2 linked regions of the Homo sapiens genome follow. The protein of the gene in region 1 purifies or fractionates together with the protein of each later gene. This does not show direct contact. Each region holds a gene or a part of one and is shown in the gene's direction. Other genes may lie near its edges. The genes, in order: HPSE and DNAJA4.

Evidence for each region.
Region 2: the proteins of HPSE (region 1) and DNAJA4 purify together in Homo sapiens (affinity purification with mass spectrometry; 2 studies listed by BioGRID and IntAct, with this or other methods). This does not show direct contact.

What each region holds. Positions count from the first base shown.
Region 1 is NC_000004.12:83,326,556-83,341,720, reverse strand, and holds the start of HPSE (heparanase isoform 1 preproprotein), read left to right. Parts: upstream 1-6,872; 5' UTR 6,873-6,938; coding exon 6,939-7,165; intron 7,166-15,165. UniProt on the Homo sapiens protein: Endoglycosidase that cleaves heparan sulfate proteoglycans (HSPGs) into heparan sulfate side chains and core proteoglycans. Participates in extracellular matrix (ECM) degradation and remodeling.
Region 2 is NC_000015.10:78,265,695-78,281,003, forward strand, and holds part of DNAJA4 (dnaJ homolog subfamily A member 4), read left to right. Parts: intron 1-523; exon of another isoform or gene 524-548; coding exon of another isoform or gene 549-599; exon of another isoform or gene 600-4,241; intron 4,242-4,802; coding exon 4,803-4,983; intron 4,984-7,400; coding exon 7,401-7,505; intron 7,506-7,963; exon of another isoform or gene 7,964-8,502; coding exon 8,503-8,730; exon of another isoform or gene 8,731-9,406; intron 9,407-9,803; coding exon 9,804-10,034; intron 10,035-12,513; exon of another isoform or gene 12,514-13,106; intron 13,107-14,350; coding exon 14,351-14,451; intron 14,452-14,550; coding exon 14,551-14,766; 3' UTR 14,767-15,309.

The sequences.
Region 1 (15,165 bases):
AGGGAGGGCATGGAAGCTCTGACCCCTTCACGTCTCTTCACCTGTATCCTTTGTAATATCCTTTATAATAAACCAATAACACTTTAAGATTGCTAAATATTGTCTTCATGAGAAGTTGATAAAGAATTTTGGTGGTTGATCTCTTTCTAGCTGCAGTTTAGCGTATGCTGAGGCCAGATATTTTCAAGCAAAAGTAAAATACCTGAGAAAATGCCTGGCCAGAGGACAATCAGATTTTGGCTGGCTCAAGTGACAAGCAAGTGTTTATAAGCTAGATGGGAGAGGAAGGGTTGAATAAACCAATAAATATAAGTAAGTGTTTTCCTGAGTCCTGTGAGCCACTTCAGCAAATTAGTCAAATCCAAAAAGGGGGCCATGGAAGCCCCAACTTGAAGCATGTTGGTAAGAAGTTTCAGAGGCCCAGACCTGTGACTAGTGTGGAAGGGGGAGGCAGTCTTGGGGACTGAGCTCTCAACTTGTGGAATCTGACACTATCTCCGGGTAGATAGTGTCAGAACTGAATTAAAGAACACCCAGCTGGTGTCTGCTGCTTGGTGTGTGGGGGAAAAACCACACACACCTGTGGTCACAGAAGTGGTCTTATGTTGATGATTGTTGTGGTTTGAGAGTAGAGGAAAAAGCATGGTTAGAGAGAGAGTTTTCCATACACACATATGCCCTGTGTTTATACTGTATATACCATTTACAGAGCCTGAGAGCAACATAAACAATGTCCCCCTCAATTCACTTGATTATGCTTTTTTTGGAATGAGTATAATTAACATCTTGCAGGGCCTTCATATGCCAGAGACAGGTGACCAAACTCGGGCAGTCAGCTCTTTAGGGACTTTTGAATAACCCCTCAGCCTACAGGATAATAATCTATCTGGTTAGAGTGTGTGGTCACTGAGTTTATTAGTTCTTGCTCTAGGGATGCTTCCTGCTTTCTCTGTCATCCTCTAGTTCACTTGCTGATTCCCAGTACCCAGTTGCCCACAGGCACAGAGAGAAATAAATATTAATTGTGTGTGTATAAGCTTATGTGTATACATGTGTATGTAGGTATATATATATATATATATATACATAAAAGCATAATTTAAAAAATAGAGACTCTATATCTATAGAGAAATGCACATCCATGTTCTATGAACAGGCATCTGTATAGCAGAGGAAACAGAACATTTATAGTTTACCCTTTTAAAATATGAATCTGAGGCAGAGTATGATGGCTCACACCTGTAATCCTAGTACTTTGGGAAGCCAAGGTGGGTGGATTGCTTGAGTCCAGGAGTTCAAGACCAGCCTGGGCAACATGGCAAGACCATGTCTCTACAAAAAACACAAAAATTAGCCAGGTATGGTGGCATATGCCTGTGGTTGCAGCTACTCTGGAGGCTGTGGCAGGAGGATCATTTCCTCTCGAGAGGTGGAGGTTGCAGTGAGCTGAGATCATGACACTGTATTCCAGCCTGGGTGACAAAGTAAGAGCCTGTCTCAAATAAATAAATAATTTAATTTAATTTAATTAAACATTAATCTGATCCTATCACAGCACCCACCCCAGGCTTGAAGCCCTTTCAATGGCTTCTCATTGCTCTAAAAATATTGCAAGGCTCAGCAATGTTTGTTCCTACATCCTCAGCTGTCCCCTTGCTCTCTCTAATCCAGACACCCCAGCCTTCTCTCAGTCCCCTCACTATCCATGCTCTCACACACCACAGGACCTTTCCACAGGCCATTCCCCTAGCCTTGAATGATTTCCCTCTACCTAGTTGTCTACTCATCTTTCAGATCTTAAGTGTCACATCCTCAATGGCCCCTCCCCCCAAATCGAAATTCTACCTCATACACACGTAAAGCACCATGATCACCTTTGGAGCACCTACCACACTTGCAATTTCACTTTTGCGTGATATTTTTAAATTCATTATTATTATTATTATTATTATTATTATTATTATTATTATTATTTTGAAACAGAGTCTGTCTCTGTTGCCTAGGCTGGAGTGCAATGGCGCAATCTTGGGTCACTGCAAACTCTGCCTCTCGGGCTCAAGCAATACTCCTGACTTAGCCTCCTGAGTAGCTGGGACCACAGGCACATGCCACCATGCCAGCTAATTTTTTGTATTTTGGGAAGATACGGGGTTTCACTATGTTGCTAACGCTGGTCTTGAACTCTTGGAGTCAAGTGATCCACTTGCCTCAGCAGTGAGATTACAGGCGTGAGCCACCACCATCCTGTGATTTTTAAAATACCTTCTACTTCCCCAGTAAGACTTCAGAGCACAGGAACAATCCCTGCTTGCTGCTTACAGTTGCCTAGCTCAGTGCTTGGTACATAGTAGGTGCCCAATAACTACTTGAATGAATAGATGAATAAACGAATATGTGAAAGCACATTGTAGAACACCATGCATGCAATAGATGTTAACTTCCTTCCTTTCACCATTCAGCAAAAATTTTCTCTTAATTTCTCCTTGCTTTGAAATACAGTTTGATTGGCAAATAATTAAAAGCAAAACTTAACTTTAGAAAGTCATAACCCAATAACTCAAAACAACACATTTGTAACTATTTATTTGCCCGGAGATAACTACAAATGCCTAAAAGTTTGCCCACATTCAGAGATTTCTACATTAGAAAAGTCTTAATTTTCTAAACAGACAAGTGATAAGATTATCATTTTCTGAAAATATCCTGAAATCAGTCTGTTGTTTTACAAGTGTTTGTAATTGTTGACCAGGTAAACCTTGTGTGAATCCCTAAAAACCCAATGCCAGTACTGAAAATCAATCCACAGACCACATGGAAATGAGATCACATGATAATTATTTTTTGTATTTTTATGCATTTATTTTTTATTTATTAATATTTTTTGAGACAGAGTCTCACATTGTTGTCCAGGCTGGAGTGCAGTGGCATGATCATGGCTCACTGCAGTCTCTATCTCCTGGGCTCAAGCAAGCTTCCCACCTTAGCCTGTGAAGTAGCTGGTACTACAAGTGCATGCCACCACATCCAGCTAATTAAAAAACATTTTTTTTTTTTTTAGAGATGGGATCTTGCTATGTTGCCCTGGCTGGTTTCAAACTCCTGGGCCCAAGCGATTCTCCCTCCTCAGCCTCCCAAAGCACTGGGATTACAGGTGTGAGCCACTGCACCCAGCCCCATAATTAATAAAGCGTTCACATAAACTTTCTAGTTCATTTAAAGTTTTTTATTTCTAAATCATTTTCATCACATAATTTGTGAGTCCCTAAATCTGCGTGAGGTAGTGGAAAAACTCTGGGCTTGGAATCAGAAAGCTGTAAATCTACTTTACAAGGTTATTGCAAAGATTAAGTGGGGGTAATAATTTTTTAAAAAATAATCTCTCATCTGTTAAACACATACCTCACATTGTAGATGGAGCTAGCTGTGTTACATTATTGTCAATTAATTCTTTAAAAAAAGACTATGGGCCAGGCATGGTGGCTCATGCCTATAATCCCAGCACTTTGGGAAGCATAAGTGGGTGGATCTCTGAGCTCAGCAATTTGAGACCAGCCTGGGCAACATGGAGGAACCCCATCTCTACCAAAAATGCAAAAAATTAACAGGGCATGGTGGGGCACACCTGTGGTCCCAGCTACTTGGGAGGCTGAGGTGGGAGGATTGCTTGAGTGTGGAGGTGGAGGTTTCAGTGAGCCAAGATCACATCACTGTATTCCAACCTGGGTGACAGAGTGAGACCCTGTTTCAAAAAAAAAAAATCTTATGAAATATGTATTATTACCCCTACTATATAGATGAAGAAATTGAGGCTCTTGGAAATTGACGATCTGGCCCAAGATTGTACATCCCATCAAGCTGCAGGGCTAAGATGTATGAAAAAGGGCTCTAGCTAGGATGTATGTAGCTGTAACTTGCTATAAAAATTAAGGTGTCTTATTATAAAATATCTCTGAAATGATAGTTCCTATTAATATTCCTATATGTTCCTCCTTCCTATGTATCCATATCATACATCCTTATCAGACATTGTAAATCAAACCAAATTAGAAGCAGGAGCAAGATCTCAGCCAACAGATCATCATGTGTGCAAATTGCTTCTCTGCCCCCTCGTTTTTGTTTTCCCAGTTTCTTTTCTTTTTCTTTTTTTTCTTTTTTTTTTGACAGGGTCTTGCTCTGTCTCCCATTGTGCAGCGGCATGATCTTGGCTCACTGCAATCTCTGCCTCCCATGCAATTCTTATGCATCAGCCTCCTGAGTAGCTTGGATTATAGGTCTGCGCCACCACTCCTGGCTACACCATGTTGCCCAGGCTGGTCTTGAACTCTTGGGCTCTAGTGATCCACCCGCCTTGGCCTCCCAAAGTGCTGGGATTACAGGTGTGAGCCATCACACCCGGCCCCCCGTTTCCATATTAGTAACTCACATGTAGACCACAAGGATGCACTATTTAGAAAACTTGCAATGGTCCACTTTTCAAATCACCCAAACATGTTAAAGAAATTGGTATGACTGGGCATGGCACAGTGGCTCATGCCTGCAATCCTAGCATTTTGTGAGGCTGAGACGGGCAGATCACGAGGTCAGGAGATTGAGACCATCCTGACAGACATGGTGAAATCCCATCTCTACTAAAAATACAAAACAATTAGCCGGGGGTGATGGCAGGCCCCTGTAGTCCCAGCTACTCGGGAGGCTGAGGCAGGAGAATGGCGTGAATCCAGGAGGCAGAGCTTGCAGTGAGCCGAGATGGTGCCACTGCACTCCAGCCTGGGCGACAGAGCGAGACTCCGTCTCAAAAAAAAAAAAAAAGAAAGAAATTGGTATGACTGTTGACTCACAACAGGAGTCAGGGGCATGGGGTGGGGTGTAAGATTAATGTCATGACAAATGTGGAAAAGAAACTTCTGTTTTTCCAACTCCACGTCTGCTACCATATTATTACACTCTTCTGGTAGTGTGGTGTTTATGTGTGAATTTTTTTTCATATGTATACAGTAATTGTAGGATATGAACCTGATTCTAGTTGCAAAACTCACTATGAGCTTAGCTTTTAAGTTGCTTAAGAATAGGTAGATCTATGCAAATAATGATAATTATTATTATTATTTTAAGAGAGGGTCTCACTTTGTCACCCAGGCTGGAGTGCAGTGGTGTGATTAAGGGTCACTGCAACCTCCACCTCCCAGGCTCAAATAAACCTCCCACCTCAGCCTCCCCAGTAGCTGGAACCACAGGCACGGGCCACCACGCCTGGCTAATTTTTTGTATTTTTTGTAGAGATGGGGTTTCATCATGTTGCCCAGGCTGTTCTTGAATTCCTCGGCTCAAGCAATCCTCCCACCTTGGCCTCCCAAAATGCTGGCATCACAGGCATGATGGCATCACTGGCATCACATACCATGCCTGGCCTGATTTATGCAAATTAGATATGCATTTCAAAATAATCTATTTTTATTTGTTGCCTTATTGGTGGTACAATCTCAAGTGGAAAAATCTAAGGGTTTTGGTGTTATTTGCTTACTCAACCAATATTTATTAGACTCTTACTAAGCACCAACATGATCACATGCCTGAGCTATGGCTAGCATAGCGTGTGAGACAAACTTAATCTCTGTTTTGGTGGAGCATATAATCTAGTAGATGAAGCCAATGTTGAGCAACATCACAATACTAACAAATTGAGGATGCTACGAGAGTGTCTAACAAATTGAGGATGCTACGAGAGTGTCTAACAAATTGAGGATGCTATGAGAGTGTGTCATGGAGAGCTGCCTGGAGATTGAGAGAAAGCTTCCTTGAGGGAAGTTACATTTCAGCTGAAACACACTGCCATCTGCTCGAGGTTTTGTAACTGCATTCACATCCCGATTCTGACACTTCACATCCCGATTCTGACACTTCACCCAGTTACTGTCTCAGAGCTTGGGTCCGCATGTGTAAAACAAGGACAGTATGCACTTGGCAGGGTTGTGAGAAGGGAAGAGAACACAAGTAAAGCACCTGTATCAGGCATACAGTAGGCACTAAGCGTGCGATGCTTGCTATGATTATACATCAGTGTAAGCATCAAGGAAAAGCTGAAGAAAAGTCTGACCAACAGCGAAAGATAAATGCGCAGAGGAGAAATTTGGCAAAGGCTCCAAATTCAGGGGCAGTCCGTACTCTACACTTTGTATGGGGGCTTCAGGTCCTGAGTTCCAGACATTGGAGCAACTAACCCTTTAAGATTGCTAAATATTGTCTTAATGAGAAGTTGATAAAGAATTTTGGGTGGTTGATCTCTTTCCAGCTGCAGTTTAGCGTATGCTGAGGCCAGATTTTTTCAAGCAAAAGTAAAATACCTGAGAAACTGCCTGGCCAGAGGACAATCAGATTTTGGCTGGCTCAAGTGACAAGCAAGTGTTTATAAGCTAGATGGGAGAGGAAGGGATGAATACTCCATTGGAGGTTTTACTCGAGGGTCAGAGGGATACCCGGCGCCATCAGAATGGGATCTGGGAGTCGGAAACGCTGGGTTCCCACGAGAGCGCGCAGAACACGTGCGTCAGGAAGCCTGGTCCGGGATGCCCAGCGCTGCTCCCCGGGCGCTCCTCCCCGGGCGCTCCTCCCCAGGCCTCCCGGGCGCTTGGATCCCGGCCATCTCCGCACCCTTCAAGTGGGTGTGGGTGATTTCGTAAGTGAACGTGACCGCCACCGAGGGGAAAGCGAGCAAGGAAGTAGGAGAGAGCCGGGCAGGCGGGGCGGGGTTGGATTGGGAGCAGTGGGAGGGATGCAGAAGAGGAGTGGGAGGGATGGAGGGCGCAGTGGGAGGGGTGAGGAGGCGTAACGGGGCGGAGGAAAGGAGAAAAGGGCGCTGGGGCTCGGCGGGAGGAAGTGCTAGAGCTCTCGACTCTCCGCTGCGCGGCAGCTGGCGGGGGGAGCAGCCAGGTGAGCCCAAGATGCTGCTGCGCTCGAAGCCTGCGCTGCCGCCGCCGCTGATGCTGCTGCTCCTGGGGCCGCTGGGTCCCCTCTCCCCTGGCGCCCTGCCCCGACCTGCGCAAGCACAGGACGTCGTGGACCTGGACTTCTTCACCCAGGAGCCGCTGCACCTGGTGAGCCCCTCGTTCCTGTCCGTCACCATTGACGCCAACCTGGCCACGGACCCGCGGTTCCTCATCCTCCTGGGGTAAGCGCCAGCCTCCTGGTCCTGTCCCCTTTCCTGTCCTCCTGACACCTATGTCTGCCCCGCCAGCCGCTCTCCTTCTTTTGCGCGGAAACAACTTCACACCGGAACCTCCCCGCCTGTCTCTCCCCACCCCACTTCCCGCCTCTCATTCTCCCTCTCCCTCCCTTACTCTCAGACCCCAAACTGCTTTTTGGGGGGTATCATTTAAAAAATAGATTTAGGGGTTACAAGTGCAGTTCTGTTCCATGGGTATATTGCATTGTGGTGGCATCTGGGCTCTTAGTGTAACTGTCACCCGAATGTTGTACATTGTATCTAATAGGTAATTTCTCATCCCTCATCCCTCTCCCACCCTCCCACCTTTTGGAGTCTCCAGTGTCTACTATTCCACTAAGTCCATGTGTACACATTGTTTAGCGCCCACTCTAAATGAGCCTTTTTGTTTCATTCATTCTGTAAGTGTTGAATAGGCACCACCTAAGGTCAGGTATAAGTGGAAATTTGAAAAAGAAACTGCCCACTTGCCCCAGTACTTCCCTAGCCAAGAGGAGGGAAACCAGGCAGGTGCACCTGAAGGCCTGTGAGTGCTTGATTTGCTGTGCAGTGTAGGACAAGTAAGATTGTGCATAGCCTTCTGTATTTAAGACTGTGTTAGGAAGATTTCTCTTTCTTTTCTTTTCTTTTTCTTTTTTCTTTTCTTTTTTTTTTTTTAGGCAGATGAAAAGGGCGTCACAGAACAGGAATAAAAATCTAAATATTCAATAAATGAGACCTAGGAGACTACTGCAGTGACTTACAAAGTCCTAATAAAAAGATGTCTCTCCAAAATGGGGCTGCAAAATGTGGTGCTGCCTTATCAGCTCTAAGTTTTTTCCTTACCTGAGAAAGAAGGAACCTGATGCAGGTTCAGGGCTCCTGCCCCATGAATGCAGGCTGACTCCAAGATGGGGAGCTACAGGGACAATCCCAGGTCTTCTAGGCCTCTTATTTAGGCCCTGGGAGCCTCCAGAGATGGCCACATCTTGACCAGCCCAGATAGAGGGAAAGATCACCATTATCTCACCTCTGTGTCAAATACCTAGATGCTGTCCTCCCTGAGCCCACACTATAGTTGCCAGCGCTAATTTAATGGGTAGTGTACTGGTTAAGAGATGGACAGACCATCCTGGCTTGACTCTCAGCTCTGGCAAAGATGAGTGACTTGGTTTTTCCATATCTCTTGGCCACACCAACCTTGATTTCTTCAGCTGTAGAATGGAATTTCTCAAGCTTGCCTCAAGGATTATTGCCCGAGGATTTGATGATATGGTAAGAGCTTCTCAGTGTTTGACCCATAGTAAGTGTTTGACGTTTCAAACGAATTGTTTCTTTCTAGGACATGGTGAGCATTTGGTAGCCATTCACCGGTTTTCTGTTTCTTTGGATCATAGTTAACCTCTCCTTTTCCTTCTGGCACTACAATTTTCTGGTGGGGAAGAATCCTTACTTTCTGCCCTTCCCCTTAAGGATAGGAAGCTGATACTAGGCAGCAACTAGTTGGGGGATAGGAAGATTGTTCCAGAGAAATGCTGAACCATAGGGCTCCAGATCACAGGACCCCAGTCTTAGCTTGCTGGGGTGTGGGGTGGGGGGGGGCGGTTACTGAACATGGGTATGAAGTAGATGTCCATTTACTGAAATGTGAGGACCTGAGGCCTCTTCTATTGCTGTAGCCAGCATATTCCCCAACCTCTCCCCAAGAAAGGACAGATGGGGGTTCCCCCCTGGAGTAACAGGTCCAAAAGAAAAAACATACAGTGGGACTTCCAGGATCTGGGCCTGATCACCCAGCAGTCAAGCTCCCCGCAATTGACTAACACCCCCCTAACACGTAGAAATTCCAATCTGCAATTTAGTGAGGATGATACCTTTATTCTTCTTAAATACATCTCTTCATTTCCCAGAGCACCCTTTTTTCCCCTCCTCTGCACCTTTTTGTTAAAGACTGGAGTATAATGAAATACCAAGAGAGCATAACATGTGATACATAAAACTTTTTTTCTGGTTTACAAAACAGTTCATTCTTGTCCATACGTGCTTCTCTCCAAGGCTGGCTGCTGTCTGTTCCAGCCCGCTTCGCTTGGAGAGGCCATCTGCCATACCTGCTCCCCAGACGCATCGACAAGCACACCCAGAGTGTTATCTGCTAAGACCTAAAAGAGGGAGGAACCCCCTCTCCTCATCTAAGACCTAGCTTCTAAATTAGAGTGTGAGGGTCCATCTCCCCAGGAGGGGCACAGGGCCCAAACAGCCCAGCCATCTCAGAAGACAACACTAAGCTTTGTAGGGGTCCACAGTAGAGGAGAGTAAGACGCCTGTTGTTTAATTTATTACAGTTCCTCAAAAGTGAAGATGTGTGGGCGGGATGGCAAGAGCTGAGCAGACGAAAGCTGAAGGAATAAGGAAAGAGAGGAGGACACAAACAGCTGACACTTCCTCAGTTCTTGTCATTTGCCTGGCCCTGTTCTAAGCACCTTCTAGGTATTAATCCATTTAGTCTTGGCTACAACACTGTGAGTGACTAGTTTTGTCACCCCCATTTTAAAAATGAAGAAAGTGAGGCTCAGGGAGGTTAAGTAACTTGGCCACAGTTTGAAACTAGACTCTGATCACATGAGATAATAGTGCCCATAAAAAGGGAAAGCAGATTATATTTTTTAAAGGAAAGAGAGTAGGATATGGTAGAAAAAGATTGTTTGGAAAGGAATTGAGAGATTGATATAATGAAAAGAAGCATTCACATGAGAGTAACAGTATCAGGGCCCAAACCTTCATCTAAGGTACTTCAAAGAGGCCTAAGCAAACTTAGTCACTGGCGTGGTTCTAGTCTCCATGATGGCAAATACATTGTGTACAGCCCAACTCCACACAAAACTTAAATACCAATGATAGAGCAATCTAAAATTTGAAAGAAAAAATCTTTCAATTTGTCGTCTTCCCAGAGGGACTTAATCAAGAAACCAATCAAAATACTTCCTAAGCCTAACTGTGTGCAGAACTCCAAAGAGAGCCCAGCCCTAAATCAACACTGTCCAATGGAAATATAATATAATGTGGGCCTCATATGCAAGGTCATATGTAATTTTAAATTTTCTAGTAGCCATATTAAAAAGGTAAAAAGAAACAAGTGAAATTAATTTTAATAATTTTATTTAGTTCAATAGATCCAAAATGTTTTCTCAGCATGTAATCAATATAAAAATATTAATGAGGTATTTATTATTCCTTTTCTCAAACCAAGTCTATTCTATAATCTGGCGTGTATTATTTACAGCACTTCTCAGACTATATTTCTTTCTTTCTTTTTTTTTTCCGAGACAATTTTGCTCTTGTCACCCAAGCTAGAGTACAATGGCGTTACCTCGGCTCACTGCAACCTCCGCCTCCCGGGTTCAAGTTATTCTCCTGCCTCAGTCTCCCAAGTAGCTGGGACTAGAGGCATGCACCACCACGCCTGGCTAATTGTGTATTTTTAGTAGAGACAGGGTTTCACCATGTTGGCCAGGCTAATCTCAAACTCCTGAGCTCAGGTGATATGCCCACCTCGGCCTCCCAAAGTGTTGGGATTACAGGCGTGAGCCACTGCACCCGGCCTCAGATTAACTATATTTCAAGCGTTCAGTAGCCACATGTAGCTAGTGCTATGGTAGTGGACAGTACAGATCTGCATTTCAATTAAGACACGTATACAAGCATAGTTCACTAATGCACGGTAAAAAAAAGTATAGTGCTGAGTCGGTGGTAGAAATCCTAAATACTGCAGAGCAAAAGTGGTACGAACAGCAATCTCAGTGATAATGCAACCATGCTTGCTTTTCATTGCAATTTGCTTATTTTCCTTCAGCAAAGTTCATCCATTTTTGCCAATTCAATAAATATTTACTGATAAAAACTTTCAATATTAGATTCTTGCATCTTCATAGACAGAGTTGCTTTTCACATTTAGAAAATTACTTATCAATGTTAAACACACGTTTTGATAACCAGTGTTGGAAAGAGGTGCAGACTCCCCATGTGCCTATTGATGGCAGAAATATTCACAGCCAAAGGGAAACAAAGGGCTGGGGACAATCACACACCTCATGTCTCCTAACTCCTGGGAAGTGCTGTCCCTCTGATTGAGCTCTTATTATTGCCTTCCCCACTAACCCTGTCCACTGTGCCCTGGAGCCCTTTGCAGGGTTACCTGCTCTGTCCTCCTCACAGAATATCTCCTCTACCTCCTTGTCCAAGCTACAACTTGGCTATTCTCTGATGACACTGTCTTCCCTGTAGCCCTTTTGAGTAATGGCTGCATATTCTCCCATAGTCCAGTTCTTTTCCTGTTCTCCAGTCTGGCTTCTGGATGACAGCCCACTAGTTTGAACTCCATACTGCTATAGTTCAAGTCCCTTTTGACTTGTTACCTTGGGCAAATTACCTCCTTTTGTTCAGGTTCCTTGTTTGTAAAATGACGATAATAATGCCATTTGCTTCAGTGGGTTATTTTGAAATTGAGTGAAAGAAGGCGGGTAGCTTCCCTACACGCTCAGTGTAGACTAGCCTGATGTGCATTACGGGTGATGCCATGACTCAGTGTGTTTTCCTCATCTCCACATCTGGCTCTCATCCAGTGCTCCTGCTTACGGCACTCTGTCCCCCTCTTACTTACTCCCCCTTATTAACTGAAGACTGGCACTGATCTCACAGTTTCCTCTCCACTTCCTAGTCTCACCATCATCCTAGATGACTTCAAGTCACCTAGATAAACTGTCTCAGTTTCTTCACTCACATTTTTTTATAACAGATAATGTTACACTCAAGTTGTAACAGAACCAGCTTATCCAGCTCATGAAATGTATGCATTTCATCTCAACTCTGTATTCAGTGACATCCTGTGGGTATCTGGAAATCAGCCATGGTGAGAATATTTACCATGGAAATTGGCAAATACTAAAAAGCAGAGCACCTTTTTTTCTGAGAGCCAGACCATAGCTCTTCTACTCCATAGCACCCATCATAACAATTTTTAAATACCTCCACTGAACAGCTTCTTCCTCTCTCTACTTCTTCCATATCTGATTTGAGCTTCTTAATTTATCATGTGAACCACTCTTGTAATAATAACCCCAAATCCCTGTTCCATTGTTCTTCCTGCTAAAATACTAAACCTGGTTTAGTCCAACCATATTTTCTCTCTTTGGAATCTACAGGGTGGCCCAAAAACCTGGAAATGGAAAAATATTACTTATTAATTTTAATGTATATTAATAAGCCATTTTAATGCTTCATTTCCAGTCTCAGTGGCCACCCTGTATAGCTGGGCTATTGAGCTCTTGCGGGAGGAGGGAGTGGACAGTCTCCCAGCCACACAGACTGATGTTGCACCAAACATTTTTTAGCTTCCAGACTTCCCTGGCCCTTAGTGTTACCCTTAACTCTCCATTTCTCTGCCTTTCACATTCTCTACTTTTTAAAAATCTCTGACTCCACCTTCACCTTATCATTCTTAGCACATGACCATACTTCTGCTTCCCAAAGAAAATGAGCAATTACTTCCTTTTCCTTTTCCTCCTGTCATCAAATCTGCAGACATGTCATGCCTAAGTCCAGCTTTCCTCCTTTCTCTGATCTCAGTCTGCTTCTTCCATTTCTGCCCTGAATCCCGTCCCCTCCCCAACCCCCAAGGACTTCGCTCTATCAGTCACCTCTTCCCTCTCCTGTATCTTCAACTCCTCCCATTTTACTGGCTTCTTCCTCAAGCCTTTCCCCAAGCCTTTCCCCAAGCCTTTCCCATCTCAATTACCTCCTCGCACATGCCTCTGCAGAAACCACCCCGTTTCTTCCCTCCCCTCGGCAGCCTGTTCTTCCTGTTCTGCCCTCATGATGGCACCATCATTGTGTCACTAAAATCAATCTCTCCGACATCATCAATGGCCTTCCTTTGTTGGGAAACCTAATAAACACTTTATCTTATTTGGTCTTTGTTATGGGTTGAATGAGGTTACCCCGAAATCCATATTAGAAGTCCTAACCCCCAGTACCTCAGAATGTGACTTTATTTGGGAATAGGGTCATTGCAGACGTTATTAGTTAGGATGAGGTCATACTGGAATGTGATGGGCTGCTTATCTAATATGACTGATGTCCTTATAACAAGGAGAAATTTGGAGACAGACACGCACATAGGGAGAATACCATGTGATGACAGGAGTTATGGAGTTGGAGTCAAAAAGCTATGGGAACTTAGGAGAAAGACCTGGAACAAATCCTTTCCTGCGCCTAGAGAGGGAGTATGGCCCTGCCACTACCTTGAATTCAACGTTTCGGCTTTTCAAAACTGTAAGACAATACATTTCTGTTGTTCAAACCAATTAGTTTGCAGTACTCTGCGACTGCAGCCCTAACAAACTAATACAGTCTCTTGGAGGCATTTGGCAAGGTTGACAATGGAAGCACTTTCTTACCCCTTTAGGTCTGTCGCCTTTCTTGTTGGGGGGTGTTTTCTAACAATTCCTCTCCATCTCTCTCTCTCTAGTTTGTCTTAAACATTGGTGTTCTTCAGACTTCTGACCTAGGCCTTCTTTTCACTTCACATATTCCCCTGGGTGGTCTCACCCACTTCCAGAAATTACTTAAATTACTGCTCATGCAGTACTGTGCTGGAAACTGTTTAACAACTGGCTCTCTGGGAAGAGGGGAGACTGGTTGATGGTTTTTGCTGATTTCTGTGGTGTAAATACTCCCTCCATGGCCAATTCCAAACTGCCAACAGTTTAACAACTGGCTCACAAATTTTCTCCAAATTTAACATTTGGCTTTCACAGGCCAACAACGTGGTACAGCCAACTCCAGCACACCTCTGCTTTTGTGTCAGAGAGAAGTAACTTATTTTTGTACAAAAGGTAAAATAAAAACACCTGCAGGCCCCCTTTTTTTCCTTAACAAACTGCTCTAGAAATAGAATAGCTGAAGCTTCTTTTATGCATTCATCTGTTATTTCCATGTCACTGTGGTGGTGGGATTATTTTTCCTTTATTTTTCTTGTATATGGTTGAAATACTGTACCTTTGATCAGTTTTAGTTTTATGGCATGTTTTGCACCCATATTAAATCTAGTTTTTGTCAGAGGGCGTCAATATTATTTTCTCAAAACAAGAAAATATTTCATTGCAAAGGAGACAAACAAAAAGGTCCTTAATACCAAAACTTTGAAATGTGATTTCTTGTACTTGGCAGTGTCCAAGTGGTAAACCCAAACAGTATTGGGTTTTCATTTTGTTCAGGAAAGTCTTTGTCTGGCAGCGACTTACCCTTACATCAGGCGGGCCTTGCTCATTCATTCACTTAAGTATTTATTAAACACCAGCGGTGTGCCAAGTACTTATCTAGGTATCGGGTAGATTCTGATAAGTCAGTCAGGTCCCTGCTCTCAGGGAGCTTGCAGCAGAGATGGGGGCTGCAATAGAGAGTAAGCCAAGGAAATGAAAAAGGAAGTTGATTTCAGAGAGTGATGAATGCTATGAAGAAAATGAAGGCAGCGCAGTGTGATGGAGAGTGACCCAAGGTGGTACAGTTTGTACCTCTAAGGACCAGGCTGTGACCCAGGTCACTCACAGATGCCCGTCATGTGATGCCACAGCAACTTTTCCAGGTGCTCGTTTCCTCCCACTTCCCAGTCTCTTGCCCAGCCGCGACTGCTTACAAATACAGCTAGAGGAATCTAAATGAGGTTCCTCTATCATCAAACCCAATCAAAATGCCAAGGAACAGAATCAGTGCCTGGCTGAAGGCAGTGGAACAGGGCCAGCCTGGAGTGGTTCTCTCTGAGGAAGTTCCTCATCTTGGTTTTAGGGCCATACCTTGTGACCTGTGAGCTAGGGGTTGCCAGTCCCTGACATTTCTACTGAGGACTCGCCTGTCTATATTCCCGGCCTGTATGTGTCTCCTGAGTTCCAGACACACAGGGCGAAGCGCCTGAT
Region 2 (15,309 bases), on another chromosome or scaffold:
TGAGGCATTGCAAGGAAAGGCTGCTAACCCTCCCGTTCCTCCTTTCACTTCTTGCCATTTTCTTACAAAACTTTGGTTGTTCCGCATGGGTCTTGAGAGGTGGGGCCGTTATAGTAGCTGATAGCAGTGTCACTTGGGCCACGTTTGAAACCACACCAATCACCCATGTAGCATTTAAGACCTGTGGAAACGACGCTGGAATCAAAATACCTGTCTGTGTTAGTTGTTCCAAGCTGGAGAAAGCTACTTCAGGACGGTTGGCTGAATGGCAACAGTGATGGAATATTTATATTTAGCCACATGTGCTGAATGTGGCTGTCACAAGTTTAAAATGCTTTCCTGTAAGACCATTTGTCTGTTACTCACTTGCGTTCTTTCTCATCTATATTTAGATGGCTTACTGTAGCTTTTAAAGGCACTGGCGTTTTACATGGTGCTGGTGATTCATCCACCTGCTCCCTACATTCATTGTGGTCCGCTTCTGACAGTCTCCTTTAAGGAGAGCTTGTAGGCTTCTAATTTCACATTTCAGCAAGCTGGCTAAAGACATGTGGGAAAGCCTGACCCTGGATTCAGGTCAAATCTCAGCACTCACAAGAGTAAGTTCATGCCTCTGTGTATACAGTTAGAGCTGAATATGCTTTTGTTCTGAAGCTTTTATTTTTAAAAAATTAGACTTGACCTGTACTACATATGTGTAGGTTTCACCCTGTCTATACCTGTCTGGGCAGGTTGTTTGGTTTGTTTTAAACTAATATTTATTCATAGCCAGGCACTGAGTTAGTGTCACATAAATGAGGCCCTTGGCAGTGAGGTCTGGCAGGCCCATCAGCTTGGAGGGAAGGGTTCTGTGATGTGCCCATTGCCAGGAATACTTTCCTTCCTCTACCTTCATGGAAGGGGATAAAACTCTTTAGTTCTCAGCTAAAACATCTTCCAGGAGGCTGCCTCTGCCTCATAGACTGAACCACAGGCCCAACGTGCATCCTACTTTAATGGTGATTACTTGTTTGATTAACTGTATTCCTTTAATGGTGATTACTTGTTTGATAACTGTATTACCTGCCATAATGTAAGCAGGGCAGTGACTGTGCCCCCATGGCCACTTATGGGGTGAGTATCTAGCTGTGCAGGGTAGGTGCTAAAATGTTTGTTAGCTGGCTGAGTAAATGCACTTTAAAAAATTGTGTGTAGGAGGAGAGGGCCCTATAAAGGCACAAATTGGAAGGGAAATTGCAGTGAAAGGGATATTGGGAGGAGAGTGGCAATTTAGATCGGAAATCAAAGAGGATGAGGAGACTGGGGACACAATTTATAGAAACGGCTGTAGAGTTCCCCAGAGAGAGCTCATTCATTCATTCATTCATTCATTCAACAAATACCTCCTCTTCTGGTCCCCACTGTGTGCTGGGTGCACTGTGCAGGCCTTTTGTGAGTGTGTATGTGAGTGTGTGTGTGAGTGTGTATGTGAGTGTGTGAGTGTGTGAGTGTGTGTGTGAGTGTGTATGTGAGTGTGTATGTGTGTGTAGTTCTTTTCCACTTTATCACAGGTAGAACCTTTAAATTTTTTTTTCCTCCTAAGTTCGTCACTGTATTATTAACGTCTCTTCAAAAATAGACTACACCAGTTCTTTACCCCTTGCTGGGAAAACTGAGAAGGCCGTTGAAATGTTGGTCTTTGTTTTTTGCCCTGTTGTCCCCTGTTGCTAAGCATTGGGGCACCTTGTGTTTTTTGGGCACTCTGTATGGAGTCTGTACTTCTCTGCGGGTGTTTTTTTTTTGTTTTTTGTTTTTTTTGCAAGATGCATGGGTGGTAGGTAGTGGGTCACCAAGATAGTCCCTTTTAGGGGCAATGATGTGGGGTATATTCTTGGCTATTACCCTGTTGAGATGAGTTTGGTCTTTTGGTCAATTTCATTGTAACTTTTAGTTTGAATAATAGACTTTCAAGTTCAAAAATCAGAACATAGCAAACCATGCAGAAAATTTTAGAACACAGAGGGAAACCTACCAAGTACACATTATCCTAACCACTCTGTGCTTCTTTCCAAGCTTTCCCCAGTATGATCATACATGGCCATCCTGATACATAGACATTTTGTTTTCTTGTTTCCACTTAATATTTTATTATAAGTACTTTTCCCAAGTTGTTACGTAGTCTTCAAAGCCATTTTCCCCTCAGCTGTATAGTAATCCTGTTAAGGTTCTGTGGCAAATGATCATGGTCTGAAAGGCAAGCTCATCATAGCACTCGTCTCCCACTGGGAGAAGGGGGTCCGGGCCGGGAGCTGAATTAGACTTTGGAGTGCTGGGACCCTAGAGGATGGACTCCCTACTGGTAGTTGGAACCCCCATCCCATGTGAGATCTGGCCTCTGACTGAATGTCCCAAGCAACTGGGTACTCCTTTTCCATTCTTAGATCATTCTATTAAGTCTAAATGACATGTGAGTATCCAGGGTATTTGGTGAGTGTTTCCGGTGGACGTTCCCATGAAGTTATTTACCTAGTCCTGACCTGCAGATAGACGCAGAAACTGTCTAGGGGCAGCCTGGCCTAGTTGCTTTCTGATCTGTACCAGGCACCCAATCCTTACACTCTACCTCATGTTTTCTGCTGAGGAAAGGGATAGTAGTGAATGGTACTTACTTCTTCGCAGAAATGGTATGAGAATTAACATATCAAAAGATCTAGCTGCCTTATATATGATGCTGATGTCTTTTTAAGACTTTTCTAAATTGTAGTTTTTTAGCTATTTATTAGCTATTATTATTGGTTACTTATTAGATTTCAATCAGGGATCTGTAGAACAAGGGAATTAATGCCTCAAATTCCCTTGTTCTCTCTCTCAAATTCCTTATTTCATGGCACTTTTTTTCCCTGAATATTTTTTGGAGCCAGCTGCATTATAGGATCTGTTTATCTATATATCCATATTTGTCTCTCCGACTAAACTGTAGCCTCTGGAGGGCCAAGATCCTACCTCATTTATTTATTTCTGAGTTCCCAGAATCGAGCCATTCATCTAACAGGTATTTACCAAGTGCCTTCTACATGCCAGGCATGGTTCCAGGCTCAGTTAGACAGCAGTGGACAAAACCCCCCATCTTCATGGAGCTTATGTTGCAGTGGGGGCTACAGCATAAGCAGTAGATGATGCAGCTTGTTAGAAGGTGGTTCATGATATGGAGAAATATGCAGCAGTTGTGGGGGCTGGGAGGGTCTGAGGTGGGTTTGCAGTGTTAAAGCTGGATCACCAGGAGGCATCCCTGAGAAGGTGGTCTGTGAGCTAAGGCTGGAAAGAGATGAGTCGGGAGGCCGCACCAGGCTGAGGTGCCTCTGAGGCCCAGACTGCAGAGTTGAGGAACAGCAGGGAGCCTGCTGAAACTGGCATAGAATTGGGGTGGGGACACACAGGAGGAGAGGAAAGTACAGGTGCCAAGTTGGGCTTATAGATGAAAGTTAGGACTGGCTTTTACTCCCAGTGACGTGGGCCACCTTGTAGAGGTTTGAGCAGAGGATCGACCCAATTAGTGGGCTCGAGTGGAGAACACACTGAAAGCTGGGGTGAGGAGGGCACATGGAAGACCACGGAGGAGGCCACTGCAGTGGTCCAGGCCTGAGATGGTGCCTTCAGCCAGAGTGGATGTGGTGTGGTAAGAAGGAACAGATCTTGCATGTTTTCGCATTCTGATTTTATTTTAAAAATGTCCATATACCTGCAGAAAACATGAGTGATACAATGAACACCTATGTATTCTTCACCTAGCTTTACCAGTTATAAATAAGTTGTCACATTTGTTTTATCTATTATTATTATTACTGTTGGCTAAAGATTTTGGGAGGAAGCTACCTATAGCATAACCTTTCAGCCCTAAGTGCTGCGTGTTTCTCTTGGGCACAAGGACATCCTTGTACATAACCATAGTAAAGTTATCAAATTCAAGAAGTTTAACATTGGGAACAAAGATTCACATTTCTCCCATTGTTCCAATAATGTCCTTTGTAGCCATTTTTTTTTTTCTCCCCTGTGCAGGATCTGATCCAGGATCACACATTGTATTCGTTTTTTTCTATCTTTTAATTTTAGAGTATCTCTCAATTTGGGTTTTCTGATTCTTTTCGTACAATTGGGTTCCAGTGGTAACTTTTTGGCAGGAATGCTACACATGGGATATTGTGTCTGTCTTAGGGTACTGGAGATGCAAATGTGAAGGTAGCATCAGTGGGATTTGTTGACAGGTGAGATTGGCATTGCCAATAACTGTGATATGGGGAAGACTATGGGTGGGGCGGGGCTTTTGGGGGAGGATCAGGAGTATAGGTTTGTATCCAATGTCTGGCACGTGGTTAGATGCTCACAGATGCCTGTAGTTGAATTTCATTCTAGTAAACTAGTGAAATGATTCCCATGAGGAGGTGAGCCAGTGGTAATGCCCAGAGTCCTGGCTCTATCTGGTTAGAGGTTCACCCCTGGCACTGTCTCATGGTATCCTAGCTGGTCTCGACTTCCTGTCTGGTGCAGCCGGATTAGTGAGAAACTTTCCCTCTCTACTGGCTTCTCTCCCTTATTCTTATCGTGTCCCTACCACCAGTCCCTTAATATGTTTGCCCTGTGTTTCCCACTTTACCAAAGGAGTAGGTAGACAGGCAAGTCAGATTCCAGGTAGAGGATGTATAGACTGGCTAGTTCAAGGGTTTGGGGGCAGAATACCTCTATTACTTTGTATGTTTATATGGCAGGTTTGCTTAACAAAACAACTGAAACTTCTCTAAAAATCTCTCTCTCTCTCTCTTTTAAAGTTTAAACTCATATCCCAGGCATATGAAGTGCTTTCAGATCCAAAGAAAAGGGATGTTTATGACCAAGGCGGAGAGCAGGCAATTAAAGAAGGAGGCTCAGGCAGCCCCAGCTTCTCTTCACCCATGGACATCTTTGACATGTTCTTTGGTGGTGGTGGACGGATGGCTAGAGAGAGAAGAGGTAAATGCTTTTAAAGAAACATAAATAAGTTGTATGGTTTCCACAATTATACGTGTTGTTGGAATCAGGATAGATCATGCTTTAAAAGGATATGATTGGGCCAGGCGCGGTGGTTCATGTCTGTAATTTCAGCACTTTGGGAGGCCAAGGTGGGAGAATTGTTTTAGGCCAGGATTTCAAGACCAACCGGGGCAACATAGTGATACTCCCCATCTCAAAAAAAATAAAAATAAAAAACTTAGCCAGGCATGGTGACTCATGCCTGTAGTCTCCGCTACTTCTTGAGATGCTGAGGCTGGAGGAAAACTTGAGCCCAGGAAGTCGAGGCTGCAGTGAGCTCTCCAGCCTGCACGGCAGGGTGAGACCCTGTCTCAAACAAACAAACAAACAAACAAAAAACCCCACCAGGTACAATTGCCATGTTTTGAGATCATTAACTTTAAAGAGTTTATCACTTGTCTAGTGCTCAGGCTACCTGGAAACTCTTGGTAAATTTAGTAATTATCTGACACCCTCCAATACCATATGAAGTAGCGAATGGAGTGGTGGATAGAAAAGAGGAAGGTGAAGTTCATCGTGCCTTCTTTTCCTCTGTTGTTGGGGTCAGGCACCAGAGTGTGCTGAGGGATGTAGATGACGCCGCCTGTGGTTGTCAGTGATCCTTTACCGAGAGTGTTCCTCTCTCCTCTTGCCCACCCTCCCTTTGTGGCCCTCCATGTTCCCTGACCTGGGCGTGGGCTGCAGGCTCTCTAATTCTAGGTGGGTACTCTTGCCATGTTCAGTATGGCCTCATTTCCCAGCCTGCTCAGGGGATTTTCTAGGCAACAAAATTCATCTCTTTATGTTTTGAAATCTTTATAAATGACCTGCCTTTCTTTTCAGAATGCATTATGAGTAGTAGCAACTTCATCCCCAGGAGGTGAATGAGGAACTTCTTAGCCCTTAGCTCAATGGCCCCAGGCCACTGTTTTGACTTTCTCGGGATTTGTTCTTCCTAATTTTTCTGCATCTCACCTCTGCCAGGCTACGGGCTGTCACCTCTGTTGTTAGTAGTTGCTAATAGACTAGTTCCCATTCCCCCTGTTTAGTTTACTGTTGTCAGGCTGCTTTGGATCTTGAAACCAGAAAGATAACCAAGCGTATTACAATTCTGGATAAAGTCAGAAGAAATGAGCTCTGCCTTGGGGTTTAAGAAGTGTGGCTTTGGTCAGTGAGAGGCCCCTAGATAAATGAAGCTGCACTTGTTATCACATTGTAATTGACTTTGAGCTTGAAAAAGCTTGGGTGTCAATTCTGTGAACATAGAGTGCTGAAAATCACAAAGTGTTTATTAGGGAAAAATCCTTCCTCTGTCCTTTGAGCATATCGCCTGCTCCTATAATTGATGGTGTGGACATGATAAAACCTTGGGTACTTTGGGAGGCCGAGGTGGGTGGATCACGAGGTCAGGAGATCGAGACCATCCTGGCTAACATGGTGAAACCCCGTCTCTACTAAAAAATACAAAAACTTAGGTGGGCGCGGTGGCAGGCGCCTGTAGTCCCAGCTACTCGGGAGGCTGAGGCAGGAGAATGGCGTGAACCCAGGAGGCGGAGCTTGCAGTGAGCCAAGATCGCACCACTGCACTCCAGCCTGGGGACAGAGCAAGACTCTGTCTCAAAAACAAAACAAAACAAAAAAAACCTTGGGTATTCTCTTGTCCAGCTCCCTCACTGTCTTGAGATGAAAAACTTCATGCCCTTAATTAAGTCATCTCTCAAAGTTGGCAGCCAGTAAACCAGGACAGCTCATCTCAGTGACTGCAGGAGCTCCACGGGCAGCAGGGAGGGTCTTGATGCTGTCAGTCTTGACAGGCTGGCAGGTGCTGGAGCACACCCCCACCCTGTGGACTGAACACCCACTGTCCTGAGTTGCAGAAGCAAGATTTTGGCAGAGGAAAGAATTCCCATTTGGCCACCGGTTACAGAAGGGCTCAGAAAGTAAAGTGCTTTATGCCCAAGGAAGTGAAAGATCCAGAGACTTTGGCTGCCAAACATTTATGTATAGAAAGGACTCCTTTCATGGGGAAACTTAACCAATTTCGTGGGTTAATACTGCCTTTGGTTTCTCAATTAGTACTCTCCTTGTCCTCAGATTTGTTCTCAGAAAATAAAGGTGGAAAGTCTTTTTGTTGGCCTCTATAAATGATTGAATAATTAGCTCATAGCTAGAGAGGGTATTAGCTCTTGTTATTGGCTGAGGGCCAGAAGGATGGGCTGGGGTAATAGAAGCATTGCTTCCTGCAGGGAAGGGAGCGCATGACCCAGCCACAGTCTTGAGTCTCTGGAGACTTCATACAACTAAGGGTCATATGGGTGGTATTTAATACAATGGTATATTTCATTCAACGCCACTAATTTTTTTTCTCCCTTGCTAAGGCAAGAATGTTGTACACCAGTTATCTGTAACTCTTGAAGATCTATATAATGGAGTCACGAAGAAATTGGCCCTCCAGAAAAATGTAATTTGTGAGAAATGTGAAGGTAAAAATTAATTTTTGACTGAACCGCACAGTTCTGATCCCTTAGATTCAGAAACAATGCTTGTTTTATAGTTCAGGGAAAATAAGTTATCTTTTTTCAAATGCAAGGGTCAAGCAGAGATTACAAACAGGTGGCCTGAGGGCCACACTTCTTTGCCTGAATGAATGTTTTCTTTGGGCTGCACCTCTATTTGACATGTTGACAATTATTTCTTTTTATGTTTTTGTATTTTTTATTTTTATTATACTCTAAGTTTTAGGGTGCATGTGCACAACGTGCAGGTTTGTTACATATGTATACAGACAATTATTTTTAAAAATTAAAAATCAGACACTTGACCTCATCTAGGGGTTGGCAGACTTTTTCTGTAAAGAGCCAGATTTTAGGCTTTCCAGGCCATGGAGTCTTTTGTAGCTAGTTCACTCTGCCGTCATAGTACATAAATGAATGGACATGCCTATGTTCCAGTAAAGCTTTATTTACAAAACCAAGCAGTCTGGCCATGGTTTCTTGACCCCTGACTTAAATGTATATATAATTATTGTAATTTTTAAAAAACCTGAGTTTTCAAGAAAAGCCATGTCTGGTGACCCCAGCCTCACATTGTCCCACAGAGAGAATTGGCTGAGCTGGGTAGCTGCCACTATTGACAGAGCTTGTGTTGTCTAGATCGCCACAGCCCCAGCCTCCTCATTCATCTGTGGGCCTATGCGAGTTCCACCTGGGGTGGAAGAAAACACATTTGATGAAGCTAAAGTAATAAATTTGGATTGGTGCAGCCAAAATCACAAACGTTTGAGGTCAGATGTTAACATCTGGATGTTGTCTGCTTGGCTGGACTCCTCCAGACTCTTCTGCATTGTTTTTTATTATTGTAAATAGAATTCTAAGCCCATTGTCCAATGTGAGGGTTCCCTACCCTTCTGCCATGGCGCCCAGCAGGGACACTGGTAAGGGAAGAGCATGGCCCTCATTCCTGCCTCCCCTGACCCTGCAGGTGTTGGTGGGAAGAAGGGATCGGTGGAGAAGTGCCCGCTGTGCAAGGGGCGGGGGATGCAGATCCACATCCAGCAGATCGGGCCGGGCATGGTACAGCAGATCCAGACCGTGTGCATCGAGTGCAAGGGCCAGGGTGAGCGCATCAACCCCAAGGACCGCTGCGAGAGCTGCAGCGGGGCCAAGGTGATCCGTGAGAAGAAGATTATCGAGGTACATGTTGAAAAAGGTGAGGCTGCGCAGAGCTGGTGCTCCACACGGGCTGGAAATGCTGTCTGGGTGCTAATCGTGAGATACACAGACTAGATGTCAGGGAAGTGAGCTGTATCACAACATGTATTGGGTGTGCCATGAATTCCTCTTGTTTCCCAGTCTTCTCTTCACCCTTCCTGGCCTTATTTCCATTCCATGTCACCTGCCAAAGTGTTCTTGCTGAGGTTTACTTCCTTGAGATCACAGACAGCCTCTTTATGAGGTTTTCTAACGCTCTGAAAGTCTTACCTGGCCTTGGTTTGGGTTAGTTGCCATCTCCTGACATTCTCAAGCCATTCCTCTAGAATCTTTCGGAGTGTCTTCCTGGTCGCTTCTGATGCTCATTGGCCATAAGGGCTTGTGTAAGTGTTTGTGGCTGCATGTTCCCTTTCTCCACATTTCCCCATGTGCTGCATCAGATTCCCCCAAATACAGCACCTTCTCCTGCTATTCATTTTGCCTGATGCCATCATTTTAAGGCCTTTTTCCATTTTAGCTGTCCTCCAAGTATTCCGATGATTCTGTGGCTTTCCAATCCAGTAAATATATCCTAGATCAGAGATGAGACCAAAAGTAAAAGAATCAACAGCCAAACCGACACAGGTGTTATTAAAGGACTTACTGTTTAAACATGCCTAAACCCTGTGCCTTGAGTGTGCAAGCTGACTTATTAGAAAAGGACAGGGCTGGCTGACCTGTCCCTATCAGTCCCAAGTCATGCACCCTGTGCCCCGGGAAGTGGGCGGTGACCCTATGCTGGTGGTGTGGCATCACAGGCCCTGGGCAGGGAGTGCTGTGTAAACCTGGGATGTAGAGCCGCATTCCCCCACTCCCTGTGCATGCTGGGCTTGGCCCCACATTATGCCAAGGGAAGCGGGACCTCTTCTGTCATTGGCCATCCTAGCCACCCCTCCCTGCCTTGTGCCTGCATGAGGTTGGGAGACTTGATGAATAAAGAATCCCTGAAGGACTCTGTTCCTTCTTCAAAAGCTTTAAGGAAGCATGGTTTGTATGAGAAATGGCTAATCAGAAAGGGATGATGTTTCATAGGTATGAAAGATGGGCAAAAGATACTATTTCATGGAGAAGGAGATCAGGAGCCTGAGCTGGAGCCTGGTGATGTCATAATTGTGCTTGATCAGAAGGATCATAGTGTCTTTCAGAGACGAGGCCATGACTTGATCATGAAAATGAAAATTCAGCTTTCTGAAGCTCTTTGTGGCTTCAAGAAGACGATAAAAACATTGGACAATCGAATTCTTGTTATTACATCCAAAGCAGGTAATGTTTCAAAGTGTGTTTCCATTGATGTTCTGTATGTTTGGCATAATAATTCTGGCAAGTTAGCCTGATTTTTTTATTGCTACATAATATTTTACATATTGATGGGGTGCATGTGATACTTTGTCCCTTGCATAAAATGGGTAATGATCAAGCCACGTGTTTAGGGCATCTGTCGCCTTGAGTATTTATTTCTTTGTGTTGGGAATAGTTCCCCTGATTTCACATTTAAGGTCAAATTCTGTTACACAAATTAGTATGATGTGATTTTCTCTAAATTTAAAACTGTCCCTAATAACTCTGGATAATTTATAAAGTTCTTGTATATTCTCCTAGAAAAAATATTCAGTTGGGGGGAAAGTCTCAAATAAGAATCTTGGGGCTCTGAATTTTAGATGAATTCTGGCAATTAAACTTAAGTTTTTAAAAATTTATTTTTGTATAAGAAAACAGCTTAATAGGTGGTGTTTTTCTATCAAGTGGTGATTTGTGCTGATTCATCCACATGTTCCTGTAGCCTCTGTTGTTCATTACATGAGTTACATTTTAAAATAGAATTTTCCTGTAAGAAAGACTTTGCCTATCAGTTTATCCTTGGAGGTTTCCACAGGAATTGCTGGTCTGCACACACCCATGGGAGCCAGAGGGAGATGCCTCTAGGCCGAAAGGGTTCCTGAGGCCTGAGCTCAGCCCCCAACCCCCCTGTAGACACCAGGGCACTCATCTCCCAGGAGGGTTGGTGTGTTCACTGTAGTTGAGGGTTTGTGTGGGCACCAGAGCACCTGCCTAGAAGGGGCTGAGAAGGGAGAGAGGCCAGGCCAGGGACCTTGACTTGAAGCTGCTTCTGAATAGCACTAAGGTCAGCTGTGCATAGCAAAGAATGTCTGGATGGGTGTGGTGGCGGCTACGCCACCGAAGCAGCCTGGGCCCCAGCACCAGCCATTTGCAGTGTTGCTGTAGTCCCCTCACTGGCCGTGGGGCTGGGATTACCTTTTTCTATGGCCATTTGAGGTTTGGTGCAAAAGGGGTAGGTTCAGGGCAGGCAGGGAGGTAACCACCAATAAGCCTGCCCCCAGGGCAGTGGCAGCTGGAGATAAGACTCAAGTCTGGTGGGGTGACTGAGGCCTGGACTTCTGTTCCCTCCGTGTCCCTCTCCCCCTTCCCCTCCTTGTCTGCTTTTCTCTTCCCAGCCTTGTGCTCTTTTTCTCTTTCCTCTCTTGGATTCTTTCAGGTTCCTCCTTTCCTGGGGATAGTAGGAAGCAGAATTATATATCCAAGCCTTGATCGGTTTGTGGAGTTTTAAAATAAACTTATTTGGAAACAATTTCAAGCTTACAAGAAGTTGTAAATATAAAAATAGTCCGAGGCCCATCCATATATGATTTGTCTGATGTTAACATTTTACCCCATTTGGTTTGTCATTTGATCTGTGTCTGTTTTTATTTATTTTTAAAATTTGTTCATTTATTTTTTGAGACAGGGGTCTTGCTCTGTCGCCCAGGCTGGAGTGCAGTGGCGTGATCTCAGCTCGCTGTAACCTCCACCTCAGCCTCCCGAGTAGCTGGGACAGCCACATGCCACCACGCCCATCTAATGTTTGTACTTTTTGTAGAGACGGGGTTTCGCCATGTTGCCCAGACTTGTGTGTGTTTTTATACATATACTTAATCCAGGATTGGGGGAAGCACTGCAGTATAATGCAAAATTTGCATGAAAATTTAAAATAAAACACCTTCCCTTAGGCTTCCATAGACCTCCCAAGGCACCCATTTCCTCCCTCAAGGAGGAGTTTGAGGATCACAGTTTACACGAAGCTCCAGACCACTGGTTGTGAGCTCAACACCCTGGCATTGTGTCCAAGATGCCCTTACGTGGTCACAGCCCAGATCCTAGCCCTCCTGAGCCGGGGCTGGGAAGCATCTGTGTGTAACTTCTTTGGGAAAGCCTGTCCTGTCCAGGGGTGGACTATTTGAGGTCCTGGGCCCCACCAAGAGCCAGCGTTCCTTGCTGTCTCAGCTGACCCCAGCCTAGGGAGCCGGGAGCCAAATGGAGTGAGGGTGGTGGAGAAAGAGCCCCAGAGGGAAGGAAGTGGCAAATCCCAAGAAATCCATTTCCTTCTTTATTATAAGGAAGGGTGGAGCATCCAGGAAACCTGCCGTTGGAGAGTTCTTTGGGGATTTGTTTGTCCTTTTTGTTTTGTTTTTGTTTTTACTTTGTTCTCTTTTGCACCCTCTCTTTTCTTCACCCCTCTTTTGTGTTGGCTTATTTCTTGTTTCTCCATTTTCTCTTCTCCCTCTTCTTCCTCTTTTCTGCTGTTGAAATGCCTTCTTCCCCAGAGCCTTTTAGCCTGTTATGAGCATTGCTGAGGATTGGATTAATTAAAAAAGTGATTTTGGAGCCACACAAGGGTGTGATGGCCCTGCCTGCAGGCAGGTATTTACCTGCCGGGAGAGCCTAACTCGTGGTCTTCTTCTCTTACCTGTAGTTTTCCATGCTTGGTCAGTTTCCCAGCTCCCAGCAAGCTAGAAGCAGAAGCATGGGGAGTAGGGCTTGAGAGCAGCAAGAAGCGACACCTGATAGGAATGGGGAGACAGAAAAACCAGTCATATGTAACTTAACGAAGGGGATATGTTCTGAGAGATGCATTGTTTGGCGATGTCGTTGTGGTGTGAACACCATAGAATGTACTCACACAGACCTAGATAGCATAGCCTGCTACACCCTAGGCTGTGTGGCATAGCCTGTTGCTCCTGGGCTAAAACCTGCACAGCAGGTTGCTGTACTGAATACTGTGGGCAGTTGTAGTACGATGCTGAGTATGTGAGTATCTGAACATAGGAAAGGTGCAGTAAAAGTTTGGTGTAATCTTTGCAACCATCTTCATAAATGTTGTTGACTGAAAGGTCACTATGCTGTGCATGACTGTATTTCTTTTTTTTTTGAGACGGAGTCTCGCTCTGTCGCCCAGGCTGGAGTGCAATGGCGTGATCTTGGCTCACTGTACACTCTGCTTCCCGGGTTCACGCCATTCTCCTGCCTCAGCCTCCCAAGTAGCTGGGATTACAGGCACACACCACCATTCCTGGCTAGTTTTTCTATTTTTTTTTTTTTTTTTTTTTTTTAGTAGAGACGGGGTTTCACTATGTTGATCAACCTGGTCTCGAACTCCTGACCTCGTGATCCGCCCGCCTCGGCCTCCCAAAGTGCTGGGATTACAGGCGTGAGCCACCGTGCCTGGCCATGACTGTATTTCAAAAAAAAAGAATAAACAGGAACACAAAAAGCCAGCAGCCTGGAGCAGTTTAGCTAAGGGGTTGCTGTCCTGCACAGTCAGTAGGCTCTGAAGGCCATGTCTGAACCACAGCCCTGCCTGCGAATGAATCTCAAGGATAGTCATTGGCTTACTTTATTTTTAAAACCTCCTCTTTAAAGATTTCCTCTTGAAGAGACAGCTCACTTTCTACATAGTCCCGTATGGAAGTGGACTGCTGAAGAAATTAGTGTTTCCATTCCCCTCCACCGTCTCCCCCATTTTTTCCGAACATTTCTTTCTGTCTTTGTCCATTTTCATCGCTGAGCTGAAGAGCATGCTTTATCAGAAACCCTTTTGTCCCTTTCCTTTTCCATGCTTAGAGGGAAGTTTCTGACTTGGGAGAACGCCTTAGAGTTCTTGGGGTCTGAACTCCTCTGATGCCTTCCAAAGTCACGTAGCTGTAAGACCCAGCGGGTGCCAGCCGGGAGGGTGACTCCAGCTCAGCAGCATGTATGGAAGTGCATTGTGACCATGAAGGAGTCTGCCAGTGGCCAAGCCACCTAGTGAGCTCCCTACCAAGGAACCTGGGTGTCACCTGCAGGTGGCCAAGAGCCAGTTTTTATGCCAGGCAGGGGACTGGTTGGACTCTATTGAGGCTTCTTCCTGTCTGTGGGGAGCACTCCTGTCCCCCTCGTGGTAGGGATACCTGTCACCCCACAAAGAGGCAGGGTGACAGGTGTTGGCCCCATTTTAGGCAGACTTGGGTGTCATGACTTCTAGTTCACTTGTTTTAAACCTACCTGTGATGGCAGCTGCACCATGCTGCCCTCTTGACACACTGCTGGAGCCCAGAGCACAGGCCAGAGTCTCAGCCTGAGCCCCTTCCCCAGGCAGTACCTGACAAGGATACCTGGGATTGGGGCCAGCTTTCCAGTCAGATGCCACGTTTCCTTTGCCCACTGCCACGGGGCACTAGGGCCTGCCGCAGGCTCTCCCATGAGGGAGAACGACCTCTGCAGGCCCCTCTGCCTTCCTCCTTCCTAATTGACCCTTTCTCTGGCAGGTGAGGTGATAAAGCACGGGGACCTGAGATGCGTGCGCGATGAAGGAATGCCCATCTACAAAGCACCCCTGGAAAAAGGGATTCTGATCATACAGTTTTTAGTAAGTTCACTATGTTTCATTGTCATGGACATATTATTAAATGCCTTAATTGGAAGGGGAAAAAACAGCCACCTTTCTTTCCCACCTCACCCTTTACAGGTAATCTTTCCTGAAAAACACTGGCTTTCTCTGGAAAAGCTTCCTCAGCTGGAAGCTTTACTCCCTCCTCGACAGAAAGTGAGGATTACAGATGACATGGATCAGGTGGAGCTGAAGGAGTTTTGTCCCAATGAGCAGAACTGGCGTCAGCACAGGGAGGCCTACGAGGAGGACGAAGACGGGCCCCAGGCTGGAGTGCAGTGCCAGACGGCATGACGTGGTGCGGGGCAGCGTGGCCCCACCGGACTAGCACATGATGAATGTAAAGTTGGCACAATGAAAATGACATCGCTTTAATGGCCTTGTGTTTGGGATGTCCTGTGTATGTGTTCAGCATTCTTAATTGCTGAGTGTCTTTTTGGCTTTTCTTTTGGTTGTAACTTAAGTTATAGCTTAATTTATATTTAAATGTTTTAAGTATAAATCACCTCTAGTCTGCATATGGAATCTGTTCATTTCTATTTTCAGGATATACTTTTGAGATGTCAGTGATTGCACCAATACTTTGTGCTTCTAGTGGCTTTGCCATAATTCAGTGTCACCAATAAGGCACAGCCCAGTTAGCAGCTTAGCCCCCCTAGCAAACCCCAAGGCACAAAGTGGGCATCCTGACTCATCTCTAGGTCTGTGGTTTCTCCCCTCTTCCCTTGGCAGAGTTATTGAGGGCATGATCTCAGGGCTGCTAAGATAACATTTCTGAGGATTCTAGATGATCCTCTTAAAGAATAAAAGCACATCCGTGGATCGGACATGGCTGCA